4 separate regions of the Homo sapiens genome follow, and regions 2, 3 and 4 are each linked to region 1. Evidence: fine-mapped expression QTL. A gene starts in region 1. Each other region holds a variant in brackets. All regions are shown on one strand. Distances are between the middles of the regions.

Evidence for each region. PIP is the estimated chance that this variant, and not a neighbour inherited with it, causes the effect. A credible set is the group of variants that fine-mapping cannot tell apart.
Region 2: its variant is the best candidate, but not a certain one, in a credible set for the expression of ABCG2 in pancreatic islets (PISA, PIP 0.55).
Region 3: its variant is the best candidate, but not a certain one, in a credible set for the expression of ABCG2 in whole blood (INTERVAL, PIP 0.87).
Region 4: its variant is the best candidate, but not a certain one, in a credible set for the expression of ABCG2 in whole blood (INTERVAL, PIP 0.71).

The regions. Positions count from the first base shown.
Region 1 is chr4:88,156,240-88,161,398 of GRCh38, forward strand. ABCG2 (ATP binding cassette subfamily G member 2 (JR blood group)) reads right to left here and starts at 2,400. Exons shown (of 16, transcript NM_004827.3): 1 at 2,147-2,400. LOC124900867 reads right to left here and starts at 3,317. Exons shown (of 2, transcript XM_047416558.1): 1 at 3,231-3,317; 2 at 2,147-2,843. The coding sequence starts at 3,317. The coding sequence ends at 2,334. RefSeq lists a silencer at 2,467-2,686.
Region 2 is chr4:88,099,716-88,104,874 of GRCh38, forward strand. It overlaps ABCG2 (ATP binding cassette subfamily G member 2 (JR blood group)), which reads right to left. Exons shown (of 16, transcript NM_004827.3): 11 at 1,515-1,604. Among named protein-coding and RNA genes, the nearest start is that of ABCG2, 56 kb to the right of the region's middle. The variant G/A (reference allele first, on the strand shown) is at 2,767.
Region 3 is chr4:88,238,501-88,243,659 of GRCh38, forward strand. No RefSeq gene overlaps it. Among named protein-coding and RNA genes, the nearest start is that of PPM1K, 43 kb to the right of the region's middle. The variant C/T (reference allele first, on the strand shown) is at 2,250.
Region 4 is chr4:88,229,296-88,234,410 of GRCh38, forward strand. It overlaps a transcript of ABCG2 not described here. Among named protein-coding and RNA genes, the nearest start is that of PPM1K, 53 kb to the right of the region's middle. The variant A/C (reference allele first, on the strand shown) is at 2,543.

The DNA.
Region 1 (5,159 bases):
TGCTACGTACCTGTAATCCCAGCTACTTGGTAGGCTGAGGCACAAGAATCGCTTGAGCCTGGGAGGCGGAGGGTGCAGTGAGCCGAGATCGTGCCACTGCACTCCAGCCTGGGCGACAAAGACTCCGTCTCAAAAAAAAAAAAAAAAAAAAAAGAAGGAAAAAGAAAAAGCAAGTGTATGTCAAAGTGGCACAGGCGCCAACCTGAAAAAGGTCCCAGTGGTGAAAGCCAGAACAATTTGAGCAGCAAATTAAATACTGATAATATTGGATTATAACCCATATAACAAAACAAATATCCATGAGCCCATACTGATACAAATAACTGAATCAATGAACAGGAGAGAAGGGTCAACTCTTCCCTACAGAAGGGAATTTTAATTAAAAAATGTAGAAGGAAGAAAATAGGGGTTTTGTTTAACCATTAGGAAAAAAAACCCGCTAAACAACATGTTCCACAAATGGATGCTTAAATTAATGAATAAAAGTTTAAGGAAAAATGGCAGTGCAGGTTTCTCTCCCAAGATCTCAAATACAAAGGGAATCTGGCAAACAGATTAACATCATAGGTAATAAGAAGTATCGGCTAGGGCACAGTGGCTCACGCCTGTAATCCCAGCACTTTGGGAGGCCAAGGCAGGAGGATCACTAGAGGTCAGGAGTTCGAGACCAGCCTGGCCAACATGAAACCTGTCTCTACTAAAAATACAAAAAATTATCTGGGCATGGTGGCAGGCGCCTATAATCCCAGCTACTCAGGAGGCTGAGGCAGGAGAATCGCTAGAACCTGGGAGGCAAAGGTTGCAATGAGCTGAGATCGTGCCACTGCACTCCAGTCTGGGCAATAAAGCAAGACTCAGTCTCAAAAAAAAGTATTGACATCATGTACCCAATATGACATACTGAGATGGAAACTTTACTTCTGTGACATTTTTCCCCAAAATGCAGAACATTCATCTAATCATGACACTAAACATCAAGCAAACACAAATTGAGGGGCATTCTACAAATTAACTGACCGGGTCTTCTTCACTAGTGTCAAGGTCCATGAAAAAACAATGAAAGGCTGAGGAACTGTCACAGATCAGAGAAAATTAAGGATATTTAGCAGTTAAATGCAAAGTGAGATCATCGATTGGATCCTGGGCAGAAAAAGGACAGTGGAAAGACAAGTGAAATCCAAATAAAGTCTGTAGTTTAGTTCATTGTATTATAGTAGCATGCCCATGTTATTAGTTTTGGCCCTTGTTATGCATGATATTATGGGAACTCTCTGTACTATTTTTTGCAAATTTTCAGTAACTCTCAAATTATTTCACAATTAAAAGTTATTATAAAATAAATAATAAAATAACCAACATCTTTCAATGTTTATAATGGAAGGGTAATGTTAGACTTAACATGCCATCTTTGTCGTTGAAACCTTTCTCATCAAGATCTCATCAAGATCTATACAATCCAGTCAAAGCTGTACTCTGAAAGCACTGTTTTGTAAAGAATATCAATAAAAAACATCTCTTCCTTACTACTCTGGTGTATTTATTTATGACTAGCTGACATTCAAATGATAAGAGAGCTGTAAGATCCTCCTAAAAACCAAGCTTTAGGGGATATCTCTAGGACTGAGAAGGGAGTAAGAGCACTCAACTATCCACAGAAAATTACAAAAGGGAGTTCAATAATTCTTTAGCAAACCATCCAAAGCTTTAAAGGGATTGACCAATAATTTGTCATTTACCTATTCCCAATTGTCATTGACCAATTCCTATATTGGTCAACCCCTTTAAAATATTAACATCAACAAATGTTTCCTCCACCTATAGTAACTTCTGTGCTCAGTGGGTTTTTATCCTTCCAATATCAACTTTAATTTCATACATTTGGAGAAAGGCCAAGAGTTTTTACCAACCCACACTTAACACACTATGGGACCCAGAATCAGTTTGCACCAGGGCATCATTTTCTGAAAAACCACTTTGAACTGTCAGTTTTAAACTGCATACCCACTTTCAAATGAAACTGCGAAAGGCTAAAAAACTCAGTCGTCTCGTTTGAACGGTTACCGATTTTCTAACAAATATATACACAACGCCCACCAACCTTTCCAGACACACACTCTCAGCGAAACTGGTTTTACAATTTACTCACTCAGCTTAATAGAGCTCGGTCTTAACCAAAGGCTCAGGATCTCAGGATGCGTGCGCTCGGAGGCAGCGCTTTAACAATTAAGGATGTAAATGTTGGGATGAGTCACCCGGACCTTCCAAACAAACTCTAAAGCAGCAGTTTCCACTTAACAAGACCACCAAGCATGTGCACGGTGCGTTCCTAAATCCTACCCAGTTCCTCCACAGGCTGCCTCCTTGCCGCGTCTCTCAATCTCAGTGGGAGTGGCGGGCACTGCCTCTTCCCTCCTGCGCGCCCGGAACCTTTTGAGTGGGCACAGCACGCAGCCCGCGCGCGGCACAACCCCTTCCCCCAACCACACCCGGCGCGCCCGAGCGCTCCCCTCGCGCGGCGGCCGGCGTGGGAGGCGCTGCGGCTGGAGGTCACGATGGGAGCCGGCGGGTGGCCGCCTGGGGAGACCCGGACATCCAGGGGACGAGCTCAGGCAGCGCTGACACGAACTTCCTAAGCCGCGCTTCGGGCTGTGGACCGCCAGAGCTGAACGCAGTGGCCCCTCCCCAGCGCCCCGGGTTTCCCCAGGTCGGGGTTCGCGGGCGGGGGTGAGGCGTGGCCCCGACTGCCGGGCCGCGATAAGCGCCCTGCGACCCGGCTGAAAGCGCACACGTGTCCTGCCGCGCTGAGCCGCCAGCAGGACTGGTACCACCGCCCTCCCTCGGGGCTAGGGTCACCCTGCCGTGACACGCAGGGACAAGCCAAACACTCCCGCCTCCGGGATCGAACGGAATGAACCAGAGTGATTAACTACGAGAATCACCAGGCGCTCATTGGGCTGATCAGTACCTCGTCTGACCTAGCTGGGTTTGGTCGCCGTCACTGGCCGGAGCGCCGAAGCACCGGGGACGCTGACGCACAGGTTGCCCAGTCACAAGCGCTGCTCGCACCCAGAGCAAGTTAAATGGGTGGTTTCTGGTGAATGGGATTCTGAGAAAGTGGATGCTTGCGCCCCAGGGCCTAAAAAAATCAGGCACTGAATCTAACCCAAGGAAGGAAAGGGGAGAAACTTACTGAATGAAAATATTACCATAGTTTAAATGTTATTCTTTACACTCCTGTGACTGACATACTTCTGTGCAATATTCCGATGGTGTGGAAAGGCTAGAAAGTGATTGCGCATGTTCAGGAAACGGGCCATCAGGCTTTGTGAGTGTAGCCATCCCAACATCTACCTGCTGCATCTACCCTAGGAAATTAGTACCTGCATGCAGATATTTTCTGGTTTGCATTTACAAACAAAAATCATAGTATCATTTAAGTTGTTTAAATCAACACTAGGAATAACTATTAATGGTTCACCCAATGCAGGAAAGTTTTAGCTAGGAAGCCTAGATAAGAAAATTGACTATACATAATTTTTTAAAAAGAATTTTAAATATACCATACCGCATGCTTTTTAAAAGAATTTTAAGGTATATATTCATGATGCGCCCAAACATTTGGGTAAAATTATTCTTTTGAATTAATTTCTGTCAGTTTCAAGACCCTTAAAGGCCCATATAGAAATACATGTTAGTCATACTTCATTTTAAGACAAAATTAAGGCCAGCACGGTGGCTCATGCCTGTAATCCCAGCACTTTGGGAGGCTGACGCAGGCAGATCACTTGAGGCCAGGAGTTCGAGACCAGCCTGGCCAACATGGTGAAACCCTGCCTCTACTAAAAATACAAAAGTTAGCTGGGTGTGGTGGCGAGGCTGTAATCCCAGCTACTCGCGAGGCTAAGGAACAAGAAGCGCTTGAACACAGGAGGCAGAGGTTGCAAATGACCCGAGATCCCACCACTGCACTCCAGCCTGGGCCACAGAGTGAGACTCTGTCTCAAGAAAAAAAAAAAAATTAAGATAAAGTTTTCAGACCTGGCCGTTAACGACTGTTTGCAAAAACTGAAAAATCTCCGAAAAATAAATTTTATTTTAATTTTCTTTTTAGCTCACCCAGATAAGTGAAAAGAATAAAATTTTATGATACCAGAAAAAATGAAAACATTTCCAGCAAGATCTGAAGGCACTACAGGAGGAGACTGAACAAAAATGGAGAAAACACACACGAAACTGATATGAAGCACATTTTTAAAAATGGATACTTAGTTGAATATAGCATTCTGTAATTATGCAAAGTAAAAACAAATCAAAACCCTATACATAGAGGCCAGGCACGGTGGCTCACGCCTGTAATCCTAGTACTTTGGGAGGCCGAGGCAGGTGGATCACCTGATATCAGGACTTCAAGAGCAGCCTGGCCAACATGGTGAAACCCTTCTCTACTAAAAATACAAAAATTAGCCGGGCATGGTGGCTCATGCCTGTAATCCCAGCTACCCAGGAGGCTGAGGCAGGAGAATTGCTGGAGCCAGGGAGGCAGAGGCTGCAGTGAGCCAAGATCATGTCACTGCACTCTAGCCTGGGTGACAACGTGAGACTCCATCTCAAAAAAAAAAAAAAAAAAAAAAAACCTATACATAGAAAATTGCTGGGCAAGGAGTGACAGCTCACTCCTGTAATCCCAACACTTTGGGAGGCAGAGGCCAAAGAATTGCTTGAGCCCAGGAGTTCAAGACCAGCCTGGGCAACATACTGAGACCCTATCTCTACAAAAAAAAAATATTTTAAATTACACTGGGTGTGGTGGCTTACACCTGTAATCCCAGCACTTTGGGAGGAGGCCAGAGGATTGCTTGAGCCCAAGAATTCGAGACAAGCCTAGGCAACACAGGGAGCCCCTGTCTCTACAAACAATTTTTTTTTTTAATTTTTTTTTTTTTTATTATACTCTAAGTTTTAGGGTACATGTGCACATTGTGCAGGTTAGTTACATATGTATACATGTGCCATGCTGGTGCGCTGCACCCACTAACGTGTCATCTAGCATTAGGTATATCTCCCAATGCTATCCCTCCCCCCTCCCCCGACCCCACCACAGTCCCCAGAGTGTGATATTCCCCTTCCTGTGTCCAAGTGATCTCATTGTTCAATTCCCA
Region 2 (5,159 bases), 57 kb before region 1:
AGTCCAGGGAAACAGATTCCACACATCCTCCCTCTCTTCAAAGAATGCTTCTTTTCCTTCTTTGACGGGGGCTTTCCTTGAAGAACAGCACTTCAGTAGCCGATTTTGGCAGGAATAGAAGCTTTTCTTTTTCCCTATTTCTGATGAGGAAGGTGGCCTGTTATTCTCCAAGCCCCCTAGTGCAGCTTCAGATGACTAAGCTCTTCTTACTTCTTCTACTCCCAAGTTAAAAAAAGAAAAAGACTTCTTCTTTCAATGATCATGTCTTCCAGCCATACATCCCTGTCAACTACCAAATTGTAATCTTTCCTCTTCCTGACATCTTTCTCCCACAATTCCAAACTCTTCCACTTCCTTCATTATTTCCCTTTCTAATAATTCCTATATGTGACATGTACATTTGGGAAAATGTGATCCATCCTTGAAAAATACCCAGCCTGGGAAACATAGTGAGACCTTCTCTCTACAAAAAAATTAAAAAAAAAAAAAAAAACAGCCAGGCGCCCCGGTGCAGTGGCTCACGCCTGTAATCCCAGTGCTTTGGGCGGCCAAAGGGGGTGGATCACCTGAGGTCAGGAGTTTGAGACCAGCCTGGCCAACATGGCGAAACCCCATCTCTACTAAAAATACCAAAAAAATTAGCTGGGTGTGGTGGCGGGCACCTGTAATCCCAGCTACTTGGGAGGCTGAGGGAGGAGAATCGCTTGAACCCGGGAGGTAGAGATTGCAGTGAGCCAAGATTGCACCATTGCACTCCAGCCTGGGAGACAGAGCGAGCGAGACTCTATGTCAAAAAAAAAAAAAAAAGCTAGGCATGCCAGTTACTCAGGAGGCCGAGATGGGAGGACTGCGTAAGCCCCGCAGGTCAAGGCAGCAATGAGCCATGATCATGTCTCTGGACTCCAGCCTGGGCGACAAAGCAAGACCCTGTCTCCAAAAAATAAATAAATAAATAAATAGGAAAATACAATAAATTAAACCAGGCTGCTCTTTACTGTAAGAATGCCTTCCGGCTCGTGCCACTTCCCTGGTCCACCGAGGGCTAAGCATGGTCACGTTCTTTGTCGACTTAATCTCCCCACTTCCAAGTTGCTGCTTAATCTCTACCAAGCCCCTCAAACTTTTCTTGTGAAGGTCATCAGTATTTACTAAAAACAAAATATACTTTTCAGTCCCTTTATTGCTTGCTCTCTCCAACATTTGGATTTTCTGACTGTACTCAAATCTAGAAAAACTCTTTTCTCTGGATATCAGGTCCCAAAGGCTCAGGATTTTCTTCCCTACCTCTGGCTGCTTTTTCTCAATGAATATTGGTAACCCCTATACATATTTTCAAAACATCATGTTGTATATGATCAATATATACAATTTTTATTCATCAATTTAAAAATAAATTTTAAAAAGTACTGGTAATCCTCCGGATCCCATCCTTGGCCCCAACCCCAGATGTAATCAGTCTAACCAATAGCCCCTGCTGCTGGACAGCCCCGTTCCCAGAACAAAGACCTACTCACATGAAGAGCTTCTTCTCTACCACAAAGAGTTCCACGGCTGAAACACTGCTGAAACACTGGTTGGTCGTCAGGAAGAAGAGAACCCCAGCTCTGCCATGAAAAGGGGAACCAAATCACCGCAGTCAACTCAGCATTCTTAGACAGATTTTCTACCCACAAAACTCTTTCCACAAATGACAGTGTATAAAGTTAAGCAGGAAAAAAAGGGAAACTGTTCTGGTTGGAACAGGGAAGCGTGAACCCCATCAAGCCTCTCCCCATCTCTTATGTCTCCACAGTGGTACTCATTTTGAAACTCACAGTCTTGGATTGTTGTGGAATGAATTGCGTCTCCCCCCACCAAAATTCATATGTTGAAGCCCCAACCCCCAATGTGATGGTATTTGAAGATGGGCCCTTTGGAAGGTAATTAGGTTCAGATGAGGTTACAGGATAGGGAGGTGGGGAGAGTGTAATGGGAAGAGCGTCCTAATAGGAAGAGACACCAGAGCTCTTGCTCTGCCACACAAGGAACAGCAAGGAGGCAAGTCTGCAAGCCAGGTAGAGGGCCCTCACCAGAACCCAGCAATGCTGGCATCCTGATCTCAGACTTTCAGACTAGAACTGAGAGAAAATACATTTCTGTTGTTTAAGCCACTTGCTCTATGGTATTTTGGTATGGCAGCCAGGCCAATACATAATTTTAACTAACAAAAATGCCAAGTACCATTCCTAATGTACAAACAGAAAAGTGGTAAGCTAAATAAAGTCTGTAAAGATTAAGAAATTCAATTAGCCACTTTGATTTTAAAGTTGAACAAAGAATGTAAGTCATGTGGAAGCAAAATGAAAGACAGTGAAGGGAACCTTCAATCAACCCCTTATTATATGCATAATCTACATGCACCACACTACCATCAGCAGGGCCGTGACATTATCCTTGACCACGCTAAGACAGCCAGCCCTCTATGAGGTTTCCAGAGTGCTCAGAGGAAACCAAGTGACACTTACTGATAAAGAAAAATCTAATTTGTGTATCGTAATGAAAAGGAACACTATTAGTGCTTGTTTCTCAGTGAAGTAACTAGATTTAAAAAGGAAAATGTTGGCCGGGTGCAGTGGCTCATGCCTGTAATCTCGGCACTATGGGAGGCCGGGTCGGGAGGATCATGAGGTCAGGAGTTCAAGACCAGCCTAACCAACATGGTGAAACCCTGTCTCTACTAAAAATACAAAAATTAGCTGGGCGTGGTGGCAGGTGCCTGTAGTCCCA[G/A]CTACTCAGGAGGCTGAGGCAGGAGAATCGCTTGAACCTGGGACGTGGAGGTTGCAGTGAGCTGAGATCGCGCCACTGCACTCCAGCCTGGGTGACAGAGCGAGACACTGTCTCAAAAAAAAAAAAATTAAAAAATAAATAAATAAAAAGGAAAATGCTAAGTTAATCTACACTTTGATACAAATATGCATTTTATGAAAGCATGCCAACATCCCTGAAACACCATAACAAAACAATATAATTGACAGTAAGGGTGTGAGTTGAAACTGAAAAAGAGGTAAGTGACACATCATTTAAATGGCGTAAAAACAAGAGAACATTTTAAAAAATGCAAACCCAAGTGAACAACACAATTACATTAAAAGAAAAAAAAGAGTCCATAGATACCTAAAGAACAAAGATCTAAGGGAACAGGCTAGGGTCTTTTTTGTTTTATTTTATTTTTAGAGACAGAGCTGCCCTCGGTCACCCAGGCTAGAGTATAGTGGCATGATCATAAACTCACTGCAACTGAGTTGAACTCCTGGCCTCAAGCAATCCTCCCAGCTTGGCCTCCCAAAGTGCTGCAGTTACAAATGTAAGCCACGGTGCCCAGCCAGAGCAGTTTTAAAAGTATGTACATATAATTAAAATGAGTGAAAAATAGCCAGGCCTGGTAGACATGCAGTTATCTCACTTTCTGTACACAAATAAACCTAATATCAAGTAAAAAGCTAATTTCAGAACATGGAACATAGCAAAGATTCAATTCAATTTGTTGTCTTAAATCTATCAGTACAGTAATGTCCATAATGATTCTGAAAAAGTAGACAATGGAAACGTTCCTTCTAAATACTAAGATGATTTATTTTAAACACAGTTTTTTCTTATTAAGGAAGTTAATTCATTCTAATTCTTTCAAGGTGGTAATCCACATCTGTTATATCTACTTATTGGTCTGAATATTTTTTATTTTGATTTTTTAAATTATAAATTGGCATATTATGGTTGTATATATTTGTGGGGTACCAAGTTATATAATTCATGAATCATAAGTGTGAAATAATTAAATCAAGCTAATTAACACATCCATCGTCTCAAACATTTATTTTTTGTGGTAAAAGTATCTTAAATTTTAGCAATTCTGAAATTTACATTATTATTTACTGTGTTCACCACATTGTGCAATGTATCTCCAAAGAAAAATCCTTATTCCTCCTGTGTAACTGAGGTTTTGTACCCTTTGACCATCATCTCTCCATTCCCCACACACCTCTAGCCTCTGGCAACCACCATTCTACTGTCTCTTTCAGTTCCATTGTTTCAGATTCCACATTAAGTGAGATTATGTGACATTTCTGTGCTTAGCTTTCTGCGTTTGGCTTATTTCACTTGGCATAATATTCTCCAATTACATCCATGTTGTTGCAAATGACAAAATTTCTTTTGTTTTTCCACTGTGTATATATACCACATTTTCTTTATCAAATCAGACCCTTCGGGTGATTCCGTATCTTGGCTATTGTGAACAATGCTGCAATAAATATGAGGGTGCAGAAATTTCTTCAATAAACTGATTTCACATCTTTGGGGTAAATATCTAGAAGTGAGATGACTGGATCTGAATACTGTTTTTAAAGTATACCTTTTCCCTTAATACACACTAATTTGTTTAGCTATCACCACAACTCTGTAAAGCAGTTATTCCAGAGGTAGCTATTAATTCAAAGATGCTTATACTCTACATATGATTAAAACCCAGTTTCTCAGTTACACGGGTTAGAGAAAGAGCAGAGAGTGCTTTCCTCTCTCAGAGAATTCATCCCCAAAGAAGAGAACTAAACCACTGGCCTCGAGCAGTTTTAAATTATGAAGTACTAATATTCACCCCTGAACAAAACTTTGAGAACCTGTTTCCAGAGATGATGCTGAAACATTTTTTCCTCATCAATAAATCACTAATCATCCCAGGAGGGATTAAATCATATACACAGGCCACTTTAACATAGTCCAAATGCTTATTTAAAAAATGATACTGGGGTCAACGAGAAGCAGTGGGAGGAAGAACATCAGGAAAAATAGCTAATGCATACTGGGCTTAACACCAAAGTGATGGATTGATAGGTGTAGCAAACCACCATGGCACACGTTTAACTATGTAGCAAACCTGCACATCCTGCACATGTACCCTAGAGCTTTGGGGGAAAAAAAAAAGATAGCAAGCTTAAGTCACAAATACAAATTATGAGCCCAGGAGTTCAAAGCTGCAGTGAGCTATGACTGCACTACTGCACACCAGCCTGGGCAATATTGTGAGATTCTGTTTCAAAAACAAACAAATTAAAATAAGATTAATGCCCTATTTCTCCAGAAAACATCTGAAGAAACACCTAAAGTTCTTCTTTATTTCTCTG
Region 3 (5,159 bases), 82 kb after region 1:
AAACTTTCTATCCCTATCTCTTTCTCTAGCTCCTTTTTAAGGCCAATAACTCTTAGGTTTGCCCCTTTAAGGCTAATTTCTAGATCTTCTAGGCATACTTTATATTTTTTTATTCTTTTGTTTCCTCTGACTGTATATTTTCAAGTAGCCTGTCTTCAAGCTCACTGATGCTTTCTTCTGTTTTGATTTATTCTGCTGGTGAAAGACTGATGCATTCTTCACCATGTCAATTCCATTTTTCAACTCCAAAATTTCTGCTAGATTCTTTCTAATTATTTCAATTTCTTTGTTAAACTTATCTGACAGAATTCTAAATTCCTTTTCTGTGTTATCTTGAATTTCTTTGCATTCCCCCAAACAGCTATTTTGAATTATCTGTCTGAAAGGTCATATATCTCTGCTTCTCCAGGATTGTTCCCTGTTCCCTTATTTAGTTCATTTGGTGAGGTCATGTTTTCCTGGAAGGTCTTGATGCTTGTGGATGTTCATTGGCGTTTGGGCATTGAAGAGTCAGATATCTATGGTAGTCTCTGCACTCTTTCCAGGCATTTAAAAAGACTTGGGTGTTGAGATCTAAGACATATCTACATTAGGGGGCATCTCAAGCCCAGTAACACTATGGTTCTTCCAGACTCATAGAGGTACTGCCTTGATAATCTTGAATAATATTTGGAATAATTCTCTGGATTACCAGGCAGATTCTTGTTTCTTTCCTTACTTTCTTCCAAGCAAATGGAGTCTGTCTTTCTGTGATGAGCTGTCTGGAGCTGGGGGTGGGGTGACACAAGCACCCCTGTGGCCACCACCACTGGGACTGAGTTGGGACAGACCTGAAGCTGGCACAGCACTGAGTCTCACCCAAGGCCTGTTGTAACCAGTACCTGGCTACTGCCTATGTTCACTCGAGGCCCTAGGGCTCTGCAATCAGCAGGTGGTAAAGCCAGCGAGATTTGTGTCCTTCTCTTCAGGGCAGCAAGTTCCCCTAGACCCTATTCTTTTCCAGAGATGCCATCCATGAACTAGGGACTAGAGTCAAAAATCTTAGTAATCTACCTGGTGCTCTATTCTACCACAGCTGAGCTAGCACACAAGTTATGTGACACAGTTATTTCTACGCTTTCCTCACCTTTCTACAGGCAGAGGAAACTCACCCATGGCCATCACCTCCACAGGCCCAAGGGGAGTGCTGCCGGGCTACCACCGAGGTTCACTAAGGCCCAAGGGCTCTTCAGTCAGCTTATGCTGAAGGCTGCCAGGTCTGGGACTCACTCTTCAGGGAAATGGTCCACCTTCTGGCCCAGGGAAGGCTTAGAAATTCCATCTAAGAGCCAAGGCCTCTAATTAGGGGCCCCAAGAGCCCACTTGTTACTCTACCCCACTGTTGCTGAGCTGGTACCTAAGGTGCAAGATCAAGTCCTCTTTACTTTTCCCTCAGCTTTTTTCAAGCAAAAGGAGTCTCTCACCATAGCCACCATAGCTGGGACTGTGCTGGTTCACATCTAAAGCCAGCATATCTCTGAGTCTTACCCAAGGCCCATGGCAAGTACTGCCTGGGTGCTGCTGCTGATTATTCAGGGCCCAAGGTCTCTTTAATCAGCAGGTGATGATTCCTCCCAGGATAGGTCCTTCCTTTCAAGGCAGTGGATTCCCTTCTGGCCTAAGGTATGTCTAGAAATACTGTCTGGGAACTAGGGCCTGGAATGGGGGCCTAATGACCCTGACTAGTGCCCTATCCTACTGCGGCTGAGTTGGTATCCAAGTTGCAAGACAAATTCCTCTTTACTCTTTCCTCTCCTCTCCTCAAGCAGAAGTAAGGCTTCTCCTTTGCAGCTGAGGGCTGTGCTGCCTGGTGTTTTGGGAGGGGTAGTGCAAGCACTCCTGTAGTTGCCCTGGCTGGTGTCTCAGTAGGTCACATGTCCCTCATGTCCACTGGCTACACGCCCAACTCAGCACTAAGACTTGTGTAGGAGTTGCAGTCCTTATTGCCTAAACTGCCTTTCAAGTTTATTTAGGGCCCCAGAGCATTTTAGGTCATAATGATGAGACTTGCTGGAACTCAAGTTCTGACTGTTGGGATGGGCCATTCCCCTCTGGCTAGGGCTAGTCTCAGTGCTCCCTCAATGGGCAGGCATCATTTGAGTTCAGCCCAGTTTTGCTTTCTGTTGTGACAGGGCAGCTTTGAGTTCAATGCCTCTCACAATCACTGCACTGTCCCTCTCCCAAGTGCACAGATTCTCTCTCTGCACCTA[C/T]GGCCATCGCCAGAGGATAGGGGTGGGGTGCCATCAGCAATTCAAGACTGTCTTTCTTGCCCTCTTCAGTGCCTCTGTCAGCAATATGAAGTTAAAACCAGGCACTGTGAGTGCTCACCTGATTTTTCATTCTTAGGAAGGTGCTTTATTTTATATTATTTCTTTCATGACTGCCTTGCCTGAAGAAAGATGCTTTTTATGTATAGATAGTTATTAAATTTGGTGTTCCTCTCTGGGGACAATCAGTGGAGCCTTCTATTCACCCATATTGCTCTGCCCTCTCTCTCTGATTTTTTTTTTTGTTTTTTAAAAAATGGGGTTTCACTCTGTTGTCCATGCTAAAGTGCTGTGGCATTATCACAGCTCACTGCAGCTTCAACCTCCGGAGCTCAAGCACACCTCAGCCTCCCAAGTAGCAGGGACCACAGGTTTGCACCACCATGCCTGGCTAGTTTTTTAAATGTTTGACATTTTTTATACAGATGGGGTCTCATGTTGGCCAGGCTGGTCCCAAACTCCTGGGCTAAAGCAATCTTTCCACCTCAGCTTCCCAAAGTGCTGATATTACAGGCATGAGCCAATGCACCTGGCCAGGGTTTTGTAAATATGAGGATCATTTTTTCATTTGGTAAGACTCCCTCTTTCCTCATGGTAGTATTTGCACTTTAAGTATCCCGGAAGAGAAAGTACAAAATGCCAATAACAACATAGATAACTCTTTAAAATAAACATATTTTAATCACACAACATAAATCTACATACATTTGAAATATGTGTGAGATTATTCTTTTTCCCCCCAGAAATGGGGTTTTGCTATGTTGCTCAGGCTGGTCTCAAACTCCTAGCCTCAAGCAATCCTCCCACCTCAGCTTCCCTAGTAGCTGGGATTACAGGCATGCCCCACTATACCTGGCAGATTATTCTTTATTCCAGGTAGAAACCAAGTTTAGACAAACCTTGGTATGAAATTTCTGCCATTTCTGTGGATATATCTAAACTTCTTTTATTATTTATTTGTTTATTTATTTATTTATTTATTCATTTTTTGAGAGAGAGTCTAGCTCTGTTGCCCAGGCTAGAATGCAGTGGCATGATCTTGGGTCACTGCAACCTCCACTTCCTGGGTTCAAGCGATTCTCCTGCCTTAGCCTCCAAAATAGCTGGGATTACAGACATGCACCACCACACCTAGCTAATTTTTATATTTTTAGTCGAGACGGGGTTTCACCATGTTTACCAGGCTAGTCTCGAATTCCTGACCTCAGGTGATCCACCTGCCTTGGTCTCCCAAAGTGCTGGGATTACAGGCGTGAGCCACTGCACCCGGCCTAGTGATACACTTAAAAGAAGTTCTGATACAGCTATAGAGGTGGTAAGACTTTTATTCTAAGATTTTTTCTAAACAAAATAAAGCTAACCTGCAAATACAGTTTTAAAGATAATTAACACATATTGAAAGTAAATAACTATGTTTCTAAGGATCAGCTAGGCACTGTTCAGGAGAAAAAGGGGTGATTTCTGCCCTCCAGGGTTGGTGTCAAGGTTGAGTTGACAAGACTAACACACATGACCTGAAAAGTGTTGGCTGAATGCCATATTGGTTCAGGCTGTAGGTAATTGGAGAAGGGAGCGCAGTGTGGGATGAGGCAAGTTGTGATATTAGATCCTCACTTTCTACTGATGTAGACTTCATGCCAACTTGGCCAAGATGACCAAGTGAACTCAGCAAAGCTGAGAGAAACTGGGCTCCAGCTCTCATGATTTCCATCTATTCCAGAATAATAAATGTTAGATAAATCCTTCGTTAAGAAGTAACCAAAGACTTTTTTTCCTTTGGGGCAAATCTAAATGATTCCAATTTAGAAAACACATACTTTTTTTTCTGACAGAAGATAACACAAGCTTTAATTTTCAAATTTCCTCCCATGTTTCATGTGAAGGAGTTAAGGTCATGCTGCCCCAAAATATGCTGCTTTGGCATGTTAACTATTTTGAGCTGAAGGCACTTGAGAAAGAGCTGACGCAGGAAGGGCTCTCTGACCTCCCCTTTTCTATTTAAGAATAGGCCATAAAACTTCCCATGAGGAAGGTGCCCTCCTTATACCAGAAAGACAAGAAATCCTTATCACCAGAGACTGGGAATCGACATTGAAATGGATCTGCATAAACAAACTTAATAAATAATCCTTATATCTTACTAGTTTTACCCCCATTCATATATCTCCCAGTCATTTCCCCACAATTTATTACCTCCAGTCCAAACCCCTTTATCTTGTTATTTCTTCATAAATGTATAATTTCTTTGTCAAAAATGTTTAGAAAGATTTCTGCTCTAGTCACTTCTTTAGAGCGTCATGTGAAAGCCCATGTACATGTAAAAATTTAATAAAGCTTGTCTACTTTTCTCCTGTTTATCCATCTTATGTCTGTTTAATTCTTAGTCCCAACCAGAGAATCTGAGAAGGTAGAGGATAATGTGTTTCCTCCTCAACAGATGTAACACGTTATTTTATGTTATTAAATATACTATTAAGACCATTGTAATTCAATATAGAAAGGTAGAAAAGAAAGGAAAGAAGGAAAAACTAGAACCTAAATGCTTATCTCCAAGGGTACGAGTAAATAAAATGCAGCAAATGCATACAATAGAATGTTATGCAACAGTTTGAGATAGAAATACATGTGCTATATTGACAAAGACCTCCAATACATATTAATTGAAAACAGCAAGCTGCTAATTAACACAGGGCATATAAATTCATTGATATTAAAAGACACACACAGACAGACACACATACACACACCTCACAGAACAAAAATATATATTTCTGTATGTATCTAGTATTCATTTATTTACAAAATCACCTAGAAGAAACTCTGAAAGACATGCCCCCAAATGGCAACAATCTC
Region 4 (5,115 bases), 73 kb after region 1:
GTATAGCCCTTCCTTGATTTATGACAAATGGCTTCAGCATCTTCACTAGAACAACAAAATTGGCTGGACACAGTGGCTCACACCTGTAATCCCAGCACTTTAGGAGGCCGAGATGGGAGGATCGCATGAGCCCAGGAATTCGAGACCAGCCTGGGCAACATAATGAGATCCCGTTTCTATAAAAAAATAGAACAAAATTTACAACCTACCTACTCTGTCTCTGTCACATTTTTCCAACTAAGAAAGATACAAGCTTCTACTCTAGGAGAACGCCCATGCATGTGTGGGAAAGATTCTATTTCCAGGATAGGGTTCCTTTTATTCATTTTGTGAAGCTGTGTCTCCTGTCAACTCCTGGCCACCATTCTCCTTTTCTCCCCACTTTTTTCCCATTGCTTTCTTCTCCCCTCAACTGGGGACACAATAGGTATATTTCCTCGCCATTCTCTTTTTTCCTCTTGGCTTGTTTCTTTTGGGTTAAATGCAACTTTCAGATAACTGTAAATTGTTTGGGACAAGGAACATACTGCATTTAAAGAACACTACCAGGCCTGTTACAGGAGGATAAAATACATTCTATTCCCTATGCAAACTGATTTTCAACAATGTAATAGATTCATATGCCTTATAATCTTCAATTCTGAATGATAGGAGAAAGAAATCAGCTATTTTTTCTGGCATGCATTATTATTATTATTATTATTATTATTATTAGAGACAGAGTTTCGCTCTTGTCACCCAGGCTGGAGTACAATGGCGCGGTCTTAGCTCACTGCAAATGCTGCCTCCTGGGTTTAAGCGATTCTCCTGCCTCAGCCTTCCAAGTAGCTGGGATTACAGGCGTGTGACACCACGCCCAGCTAATTGTTGTATTTTTAGTAAAGACAGGGTTTCACCATGTTGGCCAGGCTTGTCTCGAACTCCTGACCTCAGATGATCCACTTGCCTCGGTCTCCCAAAATGCTGGGATTACAGGCATGATTACACCGCACCTGTTATATATATATATATATTTTTTTTTTTGGCCACATATATATATATATATATATATTTTTTGAGACGGAGTCTCGCACTGTCGCCGCACCCGGCCATATTTTCAATTTAAGCTGAAATGTTCAAAGTGACCACCAGCCACACCAGATGAGGCATGATATAGGCAGTTAATACAAAAATTACAAAAGGATTTCTGGCTCTGCTCCAAGTGGCCTATATAATCTAAGGAGAAGCCCAACATCCTCTCTCACTTAGGGGTAATCTGGCTTACCACACCTAGGATCTGCTTAACAGAAACCCCAAAGCACAGAGATAGCCATCAAAGTAGGTACAGCCAGGAAAAGGATGTTGTCTGATTGTCTTCTCAGGTGCTCAACATAAATCATGTGTTCAGCCAAATACCCTTATCCTGCCTACAATGCCCAACCCCTTCCAAAAATGCAAAAAACTGACAGAGTTTGAGCCCTTTTTACTCAAAGTGTGGTCCATAGAGGTCAGCTGAGATGTGCAGAATCAGAGGCCCACCCCAGGCCCCCTGAGTTCTGCAGAGCCTGCGTTTCAGCAAGATCTCCAGGTGATACATATGCAAGTTAGTGTATGAGAAGTACCAATTTAAGTGACACATTTGTTAAAGCACATATCAAAAAAGAATCAAGATTTTCTACGAAGTATGAAGATTGGAAAAAACAAAAACAAACAACTCACCTCAGTTATGATGTGTGACGCTGGAAGCAAAGCAGCCCAAATCTCAGTGCAGAGACAGTGGTAATACGAAGAAGATTTCTACACTTAGGAGTTTTCCTAGACAGACTTCAACCAGGACCCACGCCTACTAAACAGACGAGTATCAGTCCAGGAACTTTCCTTCCTGCCTGCTCTTGGGGCAGGAGAAAGAATGAGAGAGGAAACTTGGCAGCCCCCAAAGTAGATCCTGCAGCTACCAGGGAACATTGAGGCTTTCCGAGTAAACTAGCCTCGAGGAAATGTCCCGAGTGAAATTAACAGCTCTCCTATCTCCTTGGGTTCCTTTTTTCTCCACTACTAGCTGATTATGAACCACATTTCTTTCTCGATCACTGGGATTCAAACAAAAGACCTAATGGTTCCAGTCAGCGTGGGATCCTCTTCTGGCATTCCTAGCAAGGGGCTAGAAGAAGGGGGAAAGTTACATGTCAGAGAGATATTTTTGTATCTTTCTCTTTGTGCCGCGGAATTCTGATGACAGCATCTCCAACACAAACAGCAACTTTATTTTCGAAATGGAAGGATAAAAACCAATTCTAGCAAATGGCTTTGCTCTGTGCGTAAACTTCCTGTGCTTTTTTAACCCTGATGTAACTGAGGGTCTCCTCTCACAGGCCCTGCCTTCTAGCACACACAAAAAAACAACCAAGCAGGACTATGACATAATTTGAAAAGGAAGCGAATTAAACCAAAACAAAGAGTTAGGTTTCAATGCAAAGGCCCACCAGAAATCTAAAGAGGACCGAGAAGCTGTATACTTGGAGCATGCTATACTTTTCATGTTATTCTTTCCTAAACCAAAAGT[A/C]AAATAGGAAGTCAAGACTGTGCTAAATAGGCATTTCTCTCTCTCTCTCTCTCTCTCTGTGTGTGTGTGTGTGTGTGTGTGTGTGTGTGTATTTTAAATAGAGACGGGGTCTTGTTATATTGGCCAGGGTGGTCTCGAACTCCTGGCCTCCAGCAATCCTCCCACCTCAGCCTCCCAAAGTGTTGGGATCACAGGCATGAACCACCAAACCTGGCTTTTTTTTTTTTTTTTCTTAGGCAAGATCTCACTTTGTCACCCAGGCTGGAGTTAAATAGGCATTTCATATTCTGAAAACATGATAGATGTCAAAAGAAAAAATATGACATTTACTAAGTGCTTCTAATTCCACTGTTTACTGGCCTTGAAAAGCTTCTTAAGCCAAGCCTTCCCCAACAATAAAATAGTGATAACAATAATACCTTCCTTACAGAGTTGTCATGATAAATTTCATGAGATTCACAAAATACCGATTACTGAATTTGTCTTGCTGTTAAGTTCTGTTTATATTTAAGTCACTATCCTGATTATTCACTGTGTTGTGCAGTACCTAGGACAAATTAGGCATTTTGTAAATATTTATTGAAATGAAATGAACGTTTAAAAAATCTTGAAGTTGTTAAGAAATTCCATTTATCTATTTTTATAAATTTATTTTAATATGGTAAAATATGTATAACATAAAATTAGCCATTTGAAACATTTTAAGAGTTCAAGTCAGTAGCATTAATTACATTCACAATGTTGTGTCACCGTCACTGTTTCTAAGACTTTTTTGTCACCCCAAACAGATACTCTGTAATCATTAAGCAATAACTCCGTCAGGGATTTTTTTTTTCTGTTTAATTTTAAATTTTTATTTCTTGTAGGTACATAGTAGGTGTATATATTTATGGGGTACATGAGATATTTTCATACAGGCACACAATGTGTGGTAATCTCATCAGGGTAAATGGGGTATCCACCACCTCAAACATTTATCCTTTGTATTATAAGCAATCCAATTATACTTTTTTCATTTTATTTATTTATTTATTTATTTTTTTTGAGATGGGGTCTCACTCTAATGCCCAGGCTGGAGTGCAGCAGTATGATCTCAGCTCACTGCAACCTCCACCTCCAGGGTTCAAGCAATCCTCCTGCCTCAGCCTCCCAAGTAGCTGGGATTACAGGTGTGTGCCACCACATGTGACTAATGTGTTTTTGTTATTTTTAAGTGGACAATTAAATTATTTTTGACTACAGTCACATTGTCGTGCTAGCAAATACTAGGTCTTAATTATTTTTTCTAATTATTTTTTGTACCCATGAACCATCCCACTTCCCCCCACCTCCCCAATACTTTTCCCAGCCTCTGGTAACCATTCTTCCACTCTCTATCTCTATGAGTTCAATTGTTTTAATTTTTAGCTCCCACAAATAAGTAAGAACATGTTACGTTTGTGTCTCTGTGCTTGGCTTGTTTCACTTAACATAATTACCTTCAGTTCCATCTGTATTGTTGCAAATGATAGGATCTCATTCTTCTTTTTTTTGAGACAGTCTCGCTCTGTCACCCAGGCTGGAGTGCAGTGGTGCAAGCTCAGCTCACTGCAAGCTCCACCTTCCGAGTTCATGCCATTCTCCTGCCTCAGCCTCCCAAGTAGCTGGGACTACAGGCACCCGCCACCATGTGGGTATTTTTAGTAGAGACGGGGTTTCACTGCGTTAGCCAGGATGGTCTCAATCTCCTGAATTCGTGATCTGCCCACATCGGCCCCCAAAGTGCTGGGATTACAGGCATGAGCCACTGCACCTGGCCAGATCCCATTCTTTTTCATGGCTAAATAGCACTCCACTGTGTATATGTACCACATTTTCTTTATCCATTTGTCTGTTGATGGATACTTGGGTTGCTTCCAAATATTGGCTATTGTGAATACAGCTGCAACAAACATAGCAATGCAGATATCTCTTCAATATACGGATTTCTTTTCTTTTAGATTTATACCTAGGAGTGGGATTGCTGGATCATATGGTATCTCTACTTTTAGTTTTTTGAAAAACCTCCAAACTGTTCTCCATAGTGGATGTACTAATTTATGTTCCCACCAACAGTGTATGAGGGCTTTCTTTTCTCTATCCTCACCAGCATTTATTATTGACTGTCTTTTAGATAAAAGCCAGTTTAACTGGGGTGAGATGATATCTCATTGTAGTTTTGATTTGCATTTCTCTGATGATCAGTGATATTGAGAGCCTTTTCATATACCTGTTTGCCATTTGTACATCTTCTTTTGAGAAATGTCTATTCAAATCTTTCACCCATTTTATACTTAGGCTATTAGATATTTTTCCTATAGAGTTGTTTGAGCTCCTTGTATATTCTGGTTATTTATTCCATGTCAAATGGAGAGTTTACAGATATTTTCTCCCATTCTGTGGGTCGTCTCTTCACTTTGTGGATTGTTTCCTTTGCTGTACAGAAGCTTTTAAATTTGATATGGTCCCATCTGTCCATTTTTGCTTTGGTTGCCTGTGCTTCTGGGGTATTATTCAAGAAATCTTTGCCCAGTCCAATGTCCTGGAGAGTTTCC